2 separate regions of the Homo sapiens genome follow, and region 1 is linked to region 2. The links come from fine-mapping of genetic effects on gene expression. A gene starts in region 2. The other region holds a variant in brackets. All regions are shown on one strand. Distances are between the middles of the regions. Region 1 overlaps RNF11 (ring finger protein 11). Region 2 holds the start of TTC39A (tetratricopeptide repeat domain 39A).

Region 1 (5,322 bases), 56 kb after region 2:
CGGCCGGGCGCGGTTGCTCACGCCTGTAATCCCAGCACTTTGGGAGGCCGAGGCAGGCGGATCACCTGGAGGTCAGGAGTTCGAGACCAGCCTCAACATGGAGAAACCCCGTCTCTACTAAAATAGAAAATTAGCCAGGCATGGTGGTGCATGCCTGTAATCCCAGCTACTCGGGAGGCTGAGGCAGGAGAATTGCTTGAACCTGGGAGGCGGAGGTTGCGGTGAGTCGAGATCATGCCATTGCACTCCAGCCTGGGCAACAAGAGCTAAACTCTGTCTCAAAAAAAAAAAAAAAAAAAAAGAATGCCTATGAATTATTCTTCCTCGTGTCAGGGTAACACTACAGATAGTGATGAGTGTAAGCAAGCAGCACGAAGACCAAACCTCTTCTCTTCCCACACTTTGCACACTGTGAAGTTGTAGCTGTTAACTTTTATAATGTGTTTACCCAGTTCAGCTAAGCTTTTGCATAGAGGATCATCATTCTGCATTGTTTCAAAGCTGAAGGCCTGGCTCTAATTCTGGGGTTGGCAGAATGTAGCCTATTCCTGCACCTCATTTGGATAATGCTGGAAGCCAATCTCAGTGTCTTTCTGATAGTATAGTAGTCCAGGCTTCTCAATTCACACACAATGCTTAAAACTTGCTTTTGGGTACTAACTGACCAGATTAGCTACTGTGGTGGCCTCCAGTGAGAAGTTGAACTTTTTTTGCATAGCCAACCAAATCTTCTCACAGGCATTCAGAGTACACACTGCCATGACAAGACACTTAGGGAGACCCCTTAGTATCTTCCTCAACAACTTCTTTTTCTCAGTGCTAAGAGATGTGGAGCCCACAAGCACAAATATTAGAGGAAGGGTTCAAAGCAAATAGGCGCTGCTCCTTTCATCACCATCAGTTTTAGATGCCTAAAACATGTGCCTATTGCTAACACTCCTTCATTCAAAGAGAAAAACAAACTTTCTATGGGAAGCACCTGAAGATGACTAAATGTGCCAGTGAACAGTAATTTTTCTCAAGAAACAGAAATGTAATGAAAAGGTAATCTCGACCATACTTTTATTAAAAAACTGTATGTGAAGAAACAATAAATGGCTTTAGTCAGTTAATAACATTAATCAGATGCATCCAGCTACTGTCCTAAGGCAGTGCCAGGCTGGGAGCAGTGACTCAGGCCTATAATCCCAGCACGTTGGGAGGCTGAGGCAGGAGAAGCTCTTGAGGCCAGGAGTTTCAGGCCAGCCTGGGCAACATAGTGAGACTCAGTCTCTACAAAAAAACAAAACATTAGCTGGACGTGGTTGAGCGCACCTGCAGTCAATCCCAGCTACTCGAGAGGCTGATGTGGGAAAAATCACTTGAGCGCAGGAGTCTGAACTTACGGTGAGCCATGATCAAACCACTGCACTACAGCTTGGGGGACACAGTGAGACCCTGTCTCCAAAACAAAAGCTTGTGCCTAAGTGCTCAGTGTGATAAAGCAAACAATGTGGACAATTAAAATGTGCAAATAAATCTCAAACCCTTTTTATAATTCACTGGTGCCTCTGATGGAAGAAGCTTGTAAAATCAGGAAATAGGTTGTAAAGGGACTTACTTATCTGGATGCTCTGTATCTATGCTAAAGAGCAAGGAAATAGCAAAAGGACAAATGAAGAGCAGAAAGTCTAGATAATTGTGCCTGGACAATCAATCTCTGAATAACCAACAAGTGCCCAATACTGCTTCTAATTTCTCAGGAAACAAAAAAAGAACCAAACCTGTACTTCACAAGTTTGGGAAGGGATCATCTACCAATGGTTCCAAAACCTACTAGTGCATCAGAATCACTTGGAGAACCTGTTACAAATGATAGATGGCCAGGTATAGTGACCCATACCTGTAACCCCAGTACTTTGGGAGGCTGAGGTGGGAGGATCATTGGAGCCCAGGAGTTCGAGACCAGCCTGGGCAACATGCCAAAAACTCATCTCTACAAAAAAATACAAAAATTAGCCAGGTGTGGTAGCATGTACCTGTAGTCTCAGCTCCTTGGGAAGGTCGCTTGAGCCTGGGAGGTGGAAGCAGTTGTGCCACTGCCCTCCAGCCTGGGAGATAGAGTGAGACTCTGTCTCAAAAAGTTCTGTTTCTCCTCTCTCACTCTGATATGATAGGGGTCTCCATTACTAATAAACATCCAGAGCCCTAGGTAATTGTGCTCTGGTTGTCCTGGCCTCAGAGAACTACTGATCTACCAACACTCCCATGGTGAGGAAAATGTGGCTTAAAGAGACAAAATGAGTGAGTCGAGTGAGCCATGATCACACCACTGCACTACAGCCTGGGAGATAGAGAAAGTCCGTCTCAAAAAAAAAAGTACAGAAGGACGGGTCAAATCGTCTTCTATCTCTTCCCGCCCAGTAAAAGAGCAGTTGATATTTAAAAGAAAAAATATTTTAAAAATAGAAATATAATAAAAATTAAAAAACATAGAAGTGTTTATTTAAATTCAGATAGGTAAATTTAACATTACTTGAAGAGATATTAACCTAAAATCCAACTTTTCTTGTGTCCACAAATTTTAAAATTAAGGCTTAAAAAATTAGGTGAGGTTATTACACTAAGATGCATTTACACGCAAGTTTCATCAGTTGACTCCATGACTGCTACCCACTGCTTTTGTAAGCACAGATAGCCACCAACTATTTTTGTGACTTATGCTGAAGAAACATACTTTCTCTCGTTTACCACTTCTCCAGTCTCAAGACCTTAGGTAGTTCTCCTTTTGACTACAGTATCACCCACTCTATCCATGGGGTATACTCTCCAAGAACCCCACTGCATATCTCAAACTGTGGATAGTACAACATACGTACCTACACATACATACCTATGCTAAAGTTTAATTTGTAAATCAGGCACAGTAAGAGATTAGGAACAACACTGGTAAAACAGTAAGTTTTTGTCTTTTTCTTTTTTTTTTTTTGAGGCAGAGGAGTCTCACTCTGTTATCCAGGCTGGAGTGCGGTGGTGCGATCTCGGCTCACTGCAACCTCCGCCTTGCAGGTTCAAGTGACTCTCCTGCCTCAGGCTCCCAAGTAGTTGGGATTACAAGTGTGCACCACCATGCCTGGCTAATTTTGTATTTTTAGTAGAGACGGGGTTCACCATGTTGGCCAGGCTGGTCTCAAACTCCTGACCTCAAGTGATCCAACTGCCTTGGCCTCCCGAAGTGCTGGGATTACAGGTGTGAGCCACCAGGCCCGGCCAAGATTAAGTGTTTTTTAAAAACTGTATTTACAAAAGTTGTTATAGATTGTAATAAAAGTCACGTGAGGCCAGGCGCAGTGGCCCACGCCTATAATCCCAGCACTTTGGGAGGC[C/T]GAGACAGGTGGATCACGTGAGGTCAGGAGTTCAAGACCAGCCTGACCAACACGGAGAAACCCCGTCTCTACTAAAAATACAAAATTAGCCGGGCATGGTGGCACACGCCTGTAATCCCAGCTACTCGGGAGGCTGAGGCGGGATAATTGCTTGAACCCAGGAGACAGAGGTTGCAGTGAGCCGAGATTGCGCCATTGCACTCCAGCCTGGGCAACAAGAGCGAAACTCCATCTCAAAAAAAAAAAAATTATGTAACTGTGGTATCTCACTCTCAAAATACCTTTTTGCACCATAGTGTGTGGGTATGTGAAATGGCAGAAACCGTGGATAAGGGGGATTACTGTACTTTATTAAGTGTTGCTCCTTTTTAAAAATGAATGCTTCTTTATGAAGATTTGTATGCAGGGGATCTGTTATCTCAATGCTTACTATTGCATGAAATCATACTGTTTTATATCACATGATAAACACCAATAGCAGGGGGCGAGTCTTCTAGTACCGACTGAGGAGATTCCCTATCAAGAAACTCACAGAATTTTTTAAGTTTGTGTTAGGTAAACTACAAATATCTGAAAGTATTTCAACTTGTTAGGTTTTACACTCAAAAGGATAAGATTCTTTTGTTTCTTCCTGGTTAGGCTTTTTAGAAATTTCAAATCCCACAGCCAAGCTTGGACATATCTTGCCCATATCTAAATCAAGAGATTATAGCTATTGTTTGGTTTTAGAAACTTTGGTGCTATCAAGCCTAAGTATATGATTAAATGATATTAAATGCCAAACAATAAAAAATACTTCCCACAGGTATATATAGAGAGAGAGATTTTAAAATAATCATACACAACTTTTTAAAAGATTATATGGGGAATACTTACTTATGTAATCAACTCTAACTTTAGCCCTTCACAGCTGTATTATAACTTTATTTAACAACTTAGTAAAAGTCAAAATTGATGGTTCTTAACATTGTATGTTGAGAATATAAAGTGCCTAAAAAAGACACATTCTGCCCAATGCTAGTTCTTTCAATATTACCACCAAACTTCTGTGAAAGACTTGTAATGAAAAGAAAGACTAACTGCAACATGGAAGATGATTTTTAAAAAAGTTCATTTGCCAATTTTAACAATCTAGAAAAAAAGAAAAGTCTGACTATAATACTTGATGACACAGACATTATGTTTAAGTAGAAAACACAAGAATAAAAAAAGCAATTATCAGAAAATATTGCACAACTTCAGTTGTTTCCTCCAAATTTGCTTTATGTACTTGGGTGGATATAAATTAATAAACAGAAATTTAAGCAAGATACATGTAACAATTTAACAGAACCTGATAATCTAATTTCTTTCAATTTTTCTCAAATTCATCTTTAAGTCTTTCCATCATGGGGCTCATAAGGAAATTTAAGCAACATATGGATACTACAGTTGAATGTCAAATCTTTACAAAGTACTTATGACATACTACATTCCTCTATAATGCAATTATGAATAACCTTCATGACACTGTGTTTTGTATGTAGAAAACTGTTAGAGTTCAATATTCAACTCAATATAAAATAATAATAAGAAACACTTCTGATGTTAGGTTGAGACCACTTTTCCTTTTGCTAATGAATGATTTTTTTAGCTGTAATATCACTGAGGTGAACCAATAAGTCACCTTTGAGTACATATGAAAAAATAAACACATGCTAAATGGATAAAACATTACTACTACATCTTTACTAGACCATCTCTACCTCTAACACTTCAGAAGCTTAGAGATTTAAAGTATTCTTACATTAACTGCAAGAAACAAAGGAGAAATTCCTTCTTTTTTGAGATCACAACTATGAAGTCATATGGTTATACAAATTCTGCGTTTGTGTGCAAAACATAAAATACAATTATCTTTATTCTCCCTGCTTAGTTTTGTCAGTCAGCTAGCAGGATGTAATAGATACCTTTCCAA
Region 2 (5,378 bases):
CTGGACCAGAAGTGTTTCAATTTTTGGATTTTCATGGATTTTGGAATATTTGCATATGCATAATGAATTATCTTGGGGATGGGGTCCAAGCCTAAACATGAAATTCATTTGTGTTTCATATACAACTTATACACATAGCCTAATGGTCATTTTTTTTTTTTTTTTTTTTTTGGTGGGGGCGATGGAGTTTTGCTCTTGTTAACCCAGGCTGGAGTGCAATGATGTGATCTCAGCTCACTGCAACCTTCGCCTTCCGGGTTCAAGCGATTCTCCTGCCTCAGCCTCCCGAGTAGCTGAGATTACAGGCGTGCGCCACCATGCCTATCTAATTTTGTATTTTTAGTAGAGATGGGGTTTCTCCATGTTGGTCAGGCTGGTCTCGAACTCTTGACCTCAGGTGATCTGCCTGTCTCAGCCTCCCAAAGTGCTGGGATTACAGGCATGAGCCACCATGCCCAGCCACCTAAAGGTAATTTTATACACAATATTTTTAATAATTTTGTGCATGAAACAAAGTTTGTGTACACTGAACCATCAGAAAGAAGTGTCACTCTCTCAGCCATCCATGTGGACAATCTGTGATTATTTGGCATCATCATCATTTTTGACTCTGAATTTATGTGCTCCCAATAAGCATTTTTTTACCCTTATTCACACATAAGTACTTAACAATAAAAATATAACATACCATTAATGCAGTGAAAAAATAGTGTTCAGGGTAACTCAGCAGCACGTGAGCATCAGTAGAATGCCTGTGTCCGCTGTAACAACAGCACAGCAAACATGGCAGGCCTGCAGTCTCCAACTACAGTGCTCAAAAAGCTTCAAGTTTCAGGCCGGGCGCGGTGGCTTACGCCTGTAATCCCACTGTGGGAGGCCAAGGTAGGCGGATCACTTGAGGTCCAGAGTTTGAGACCAGCCTGGCCAACATGGCAAAACCCTGTCTCTACTAAAAATACAAAAATCAGCTGGGCATGGTGGCACATGCCTGTAATCTCAGCTACTCGGGAGGCTGTGGGATGAGAATCACTTGAACCCAGGAGACGGAGGTTGTGGTGAGCCAAGATCACGAGATTGTGCCACTGCACTCCAGCCTGGGTAACAGAGTGAGACTTTGTCTCAAAAAAAAGAGAAAATAAAAAAAGCTTCAAATTTTGGAGCATTCTGGATTTCGGATTTTCAAATTAGGAATGCTCAACCTGTATTGGTAAATTTGTATTCTTTTTTTGAACAGCGGCCTCCCCATTGTAAGCTTCTGGATCCACCCCCGGTTACATGAATGACTAACAAGTGACAAGGGAGGAAGGTGTGTTCCACACAGAGGGAACAGCATGTTTAAATGCCTAGAGATTTGAAAGTGCATGACATGTGATAGGGGCCCCAGCCTCATCATCCTCTTTACATGTATTGCTTGTGGTCTCACCAGCCTCACCCTTTCCCACTTCCATGCCTTCATCCATGCTGCTCCCCGATCTGGTACACCCTCTCCATGACTTCAGTTTGTTTAAATAATATAAACTTCAAGGCTCAGTTCTGTCACCACCTCTTCCAGGAAGCTCCCCAGTCTCTCCCCTTGTCTGGATTCTTTATAGTTGCTGGTGGATGTCATCATAGCTTACTTCTAGTAGTTAATTATCTTTTTCGTGCCTGTATATGAGACTCCTAGAGATGGGATGATTCTTGCAAGTGAGCATCTGCCCCTGCTCACAAATGGGCAGGATGGGACTTCACTGCCTTTCCAGGCAGCCTGCTTAGATTTTAAGCAGCTACCACCAAGCCCAAACTGCCTGGCTCCCCTGGGATCTGGTACAAGTCCTGTTCCCACCGTGGTTGCTTCTGCAGGCTGTCCCCTTCTGCTTCCTCTTCTGACGTCCTGGAGGTCATAGTTGCTCCAGGGGAGCTACAGTCCTTCCTTACTTCTGTCCCCTCCTTTGTGAAGGGACAGCTCTAATGGCAGCCACATGCTCTGATGAGTCATGGTTAAGAGCAGCATCTGGGGCCAGGAGATGGTGACTGGTTAACTCTTCATGGGCCAGTGGCTTTCTGTGCCAGAAGATCAGGTCAGGTGGAGACACCGCCTCAGGGCTCGGTGCACAGTGGACATTTGGGGAGCGTTGTGGGTGACCCCCACACAGGCACTGGGAATGCAGGGGAGAGGGGGCCAAGGGGGAAAGGGGCCAGAGTGTTGGCTTTGGATTCAGGAGGGATGGATTCCAGTCCTAGCTTGCCACTTATTAGGTGAGTGACCATGCGTGAATCAAATGAACCCCATGCCTCAGTTTCCCCATCTGTAAAATAGCAATTATGGGGATCATTTGAGAAGGCAGTGTGAACTGCCAGCTAGCAGTGAGTGCTAAACCGTGTTTTCCCCGCCTTCTGGTCTCCTGCAGTCACTCAGTGGGCGAGATGGTGGGATTAAAATCCAGGCCTGACTCTGGGGGCTGTCTTTGTCTGCACGAATGCCCCCATTAATGCGGGAGGATGGTGACGGCTCAGGTGGGGGCCGCTTCGGGGCGGAAGCTGTGGGGAGGAGAAGTGACAGTAAAGTGGACCTCAGGTCCCGGAGAAGAACTTCTAGCGCCAAATAGGTGGGGACGTGTGAGGAGGGAGCGAGCTCCCGGCCCGGGCGGTGTCTGCGCAGAGGGCGCCGGGCTCTCACCTGTCGGAGCGGGGGTGGGGGCCGCCCAGAACCCCCGGCGGTGCGGGAGCGCGGGTCGCCGCGGGCGGCCATGGCCCTACGGTGCGGGTGGGGAGACCGAGGCTCGGCCCGGCCCCGCCGCCTTCCCCGCCCCCGGCGCGCCCCTCCCCGGCCGCCGCGTCCGCGACCGCACAGCGCCCGGCTCGGGGTTGCGGCGGCAGCACCTGGGCCGCGATTGGCGTCCGGCTGGGGCAGCGCCGCCCGCGCCCCTCGGCGATGACCTCGGCTGGCGGCGCCCCAGGAGCCCTGCCCGCGGGGTAAGTGCGCGGCTGGGAGGCCCGGGGGCGCGGGCGGCGCGGGCTGGGGCCCGGGCAGGTGGCGGGCGCCGCGCCAGGCCTCCCCCCGCGCACCGGCCTGGGGCCGCACTGCGGCTTCCAGCCCCCACCCCGCCCGGCCCCTGGCAGCCGCCGCCGCTGCCAGGAGTGGGGGCAGGGGGCTGTGAGGAGGCGGAGGCGCGGGGACCCCGGGTCGGTCACTCACCTTCTGGGTCCCAACTTTCTCACGGAGCTGTAGTCACAGACACGTTCAGAGCAGCCTTCCCCACCTGCCTCGTGGCGTTCACTCCTGTGGGGTGGGCCCTGTTACTCTCATCCCCATTACAGATGAGGAAACTGAGACACAGCACTTAAGTGACTTGTCATCGGTCACCCAGGAGGTAAGAGTTGCGGGTGGGATTTGAACTCAGTTCTGTCTGTTGTCAGATCCCCCCACCCCATCATCTTCAGGGACATTAGGGGAACTTAAACAGCTAAGGTATGGGCCAGCCGGGCCCATTGGGTGCAGCAGGAACCTGGGTAGTAAAAAGTGGGTGTTGTCACCTTCAACGTGGCTCTCCTGCCCAACCCTACCCACATCCCACTGAGAAACCCCTATAGGACCCCTACCTAGATCACCCCCCGTAGCAGTGACAGCCGCTACTGCCGGGAGACCTTCAGCAACTCTCTGCTTTTCCTGGGCCCCAGTGGGCAGGGCAGGGGGCAGCTGCTAGGAGCCCTGACTGCTGGGAGGTTGCTGGGCAGAGAGCCGGCCCAGGTGAGCTGGGAGGAGGGCTCACCCTGCCTGGAGCCTCACCACCAGTGACAATATTTGCTAAGGGCCCGAGGCTTGACACATGAACAGGGAGGTGACGAGGCTGGTGCCAGCTGGCAGCTGGAAGTCTCCACAGGGCTTGCGTGTGTGTGGCTCTATCAGGGCTTGGAAGCTGGGTTGCTGGGGGACACCCTGGCCTGGGAGAGGGTTGCCTGGTGAGTTTCAGCTTCATCATTTTTGTTGTGTGACTTTGGCCAAGTCCTTAACCCTTCCTAGACTTCTGGTCCCTCCTTTGGAAAACACAGAAGTGGGGCTGGCTGTTCCTTTCCTGTTCTGGGCTCAAGTATTTGTAAAGCTGGAGGTTGGGTAGGTTCCTTCTGTGCAGCCCTGACTGAGCACCACCACCCTGCTGGGTCCAGAAAAGTGGTTTCCAGGAGAGAAGGCGGGCATGGAGCAAGGTATCTATCAAAGAAGTCTAGACTCCCTGGCTGAAAACCACATTCATCCCACTTCCTTATATGCTTACATCCCTGCCTAAGTGCCCTCTACAACCCCGGGCACCTCTGGCCCTGCTGCAGGCCTCAGGACAGCAAGCTTGCTCTTCTCACGCTGGTGGGTCTTCCTTATGCAGAACCGTACCTGCCTCTCTGCATGCCTGCCCACTCTTCTTTGAAGCCACCTGTCCATCTGTCCCCAACCCTGGCTAGTGTCATCCTGGTGGGGTCTGAGCAGAGGAGGGCCGCACGCAGCAGGACCATTCTCACCTTCACTACAGAGACACTCACTCAACAGACACTCAGCAAGGCCTGCTCTGGGCCCAGATGGTCATTGGTGAACAAATCAAGCCTTAAATCTCTACCTTTTTAAAAATTATGAAATATTTTAAGCCTTCAGAAAAATATAGCAAATAGTAAAATGAACTCACAAACCCTTGCCACCCAACTTTGTCAGATATTAACATTGTGCCCCATTTATTTTATATTCTTTTTAAGAAATAAACCATAGTAGAGACCCTTGAAAGTCTTGTGGAAACCTCTTCCCTCCTTCCCTCTCCAGAATTACTTGCCATCCTGAATTTAGGTTTTATCATTTCTCTGTTTTTATTCTTTTACTCAGTGTGTGTAAGTCTTAAAAATATGTAGTTTGTTCTTCAAAGTTTTCTGTGAATGGAGTCCTATAGCATGTGTCATGCTGCAGCTCGCGTTTTCACACTCAACTTCAGGTCTCAGATTTAGCCTTGATCCTGTAGCTCTTGTCCCACTTGCCCTGATGTGTGATATACCACCCTATGTAGACACCTCCATTTGTTTATCCTTCTTGATGGATGTCGAAGTGTTCCCAGTGTCTTGCTATTCAGACAGTGAATATTCTTGTATGATGGTGTTTGCACATGTGTTTCACGAGGGTGCCCCCTTAGTAGTGGAATTGCTGGGTTGTTGGATATGTGCACTCGATCTTAAATAAAATAAAATAAAATAAAATAGAGACAGGATCTCACTTTGTTGCCCAGACTGGTCTCAAACTACTGGGTTCAAGCGATCCTCCTTCCTTGGCCTCCTGAAGTGCTGGGATTACAGGAGTAAGCCACTGCGCCTGGCCCACTCAATCTTTTAAAGTTATTTAGTTTCATTATAAAGTCAGTGCTACTTGA

The links. PIP is the estimated chance that this variant, and not a neighbour inherited with it, causes the effect.
Region 1: its variant is the best candidate, but not a certain one, in a credible set for the expression of TTC39A in lung (TOPMed, PIP 0.86).

The regions. Positions count from the first base shown.
Region 1 is chr1:51,272,394-51,277,715 of GRCh38, reverse strand. RNF11 (ring finger protein 11) reads right to left here. Exons shown (of 3, transcript NM_014372.5): 3 at 4,269-5,322. Among named protein-coding and RNA genes, the nearest start is that of RNF11, 39 kb to the right of the region's middle. The variant C/T (reference allele first, on the strand shown) is at 3,366.
Region 2 is chr1:51,328,014-51,333,391 of GRCh38, reverse strand. It overlaps TTC39A (tetratricopeptide repeat domain 39A), which reads left to right and starts at 2,830. Exons shown (of 18, transcript NM_001297663.2): 1 at 2,830-2,955. The coding sequence starts at 2,915. TTC39A-AS1 (TTC39A antisense RNA 1) reads right to left here and starts at 3,738. Exons shown (of 3, transcript NR_123731.1): 1 at 3,583-3,738; 2 at 3,179-3,262; 3 at 2,111-2,520. RefSeq lists an enhancer at 1,921-1,970 and a silencer at 2,788-2,857.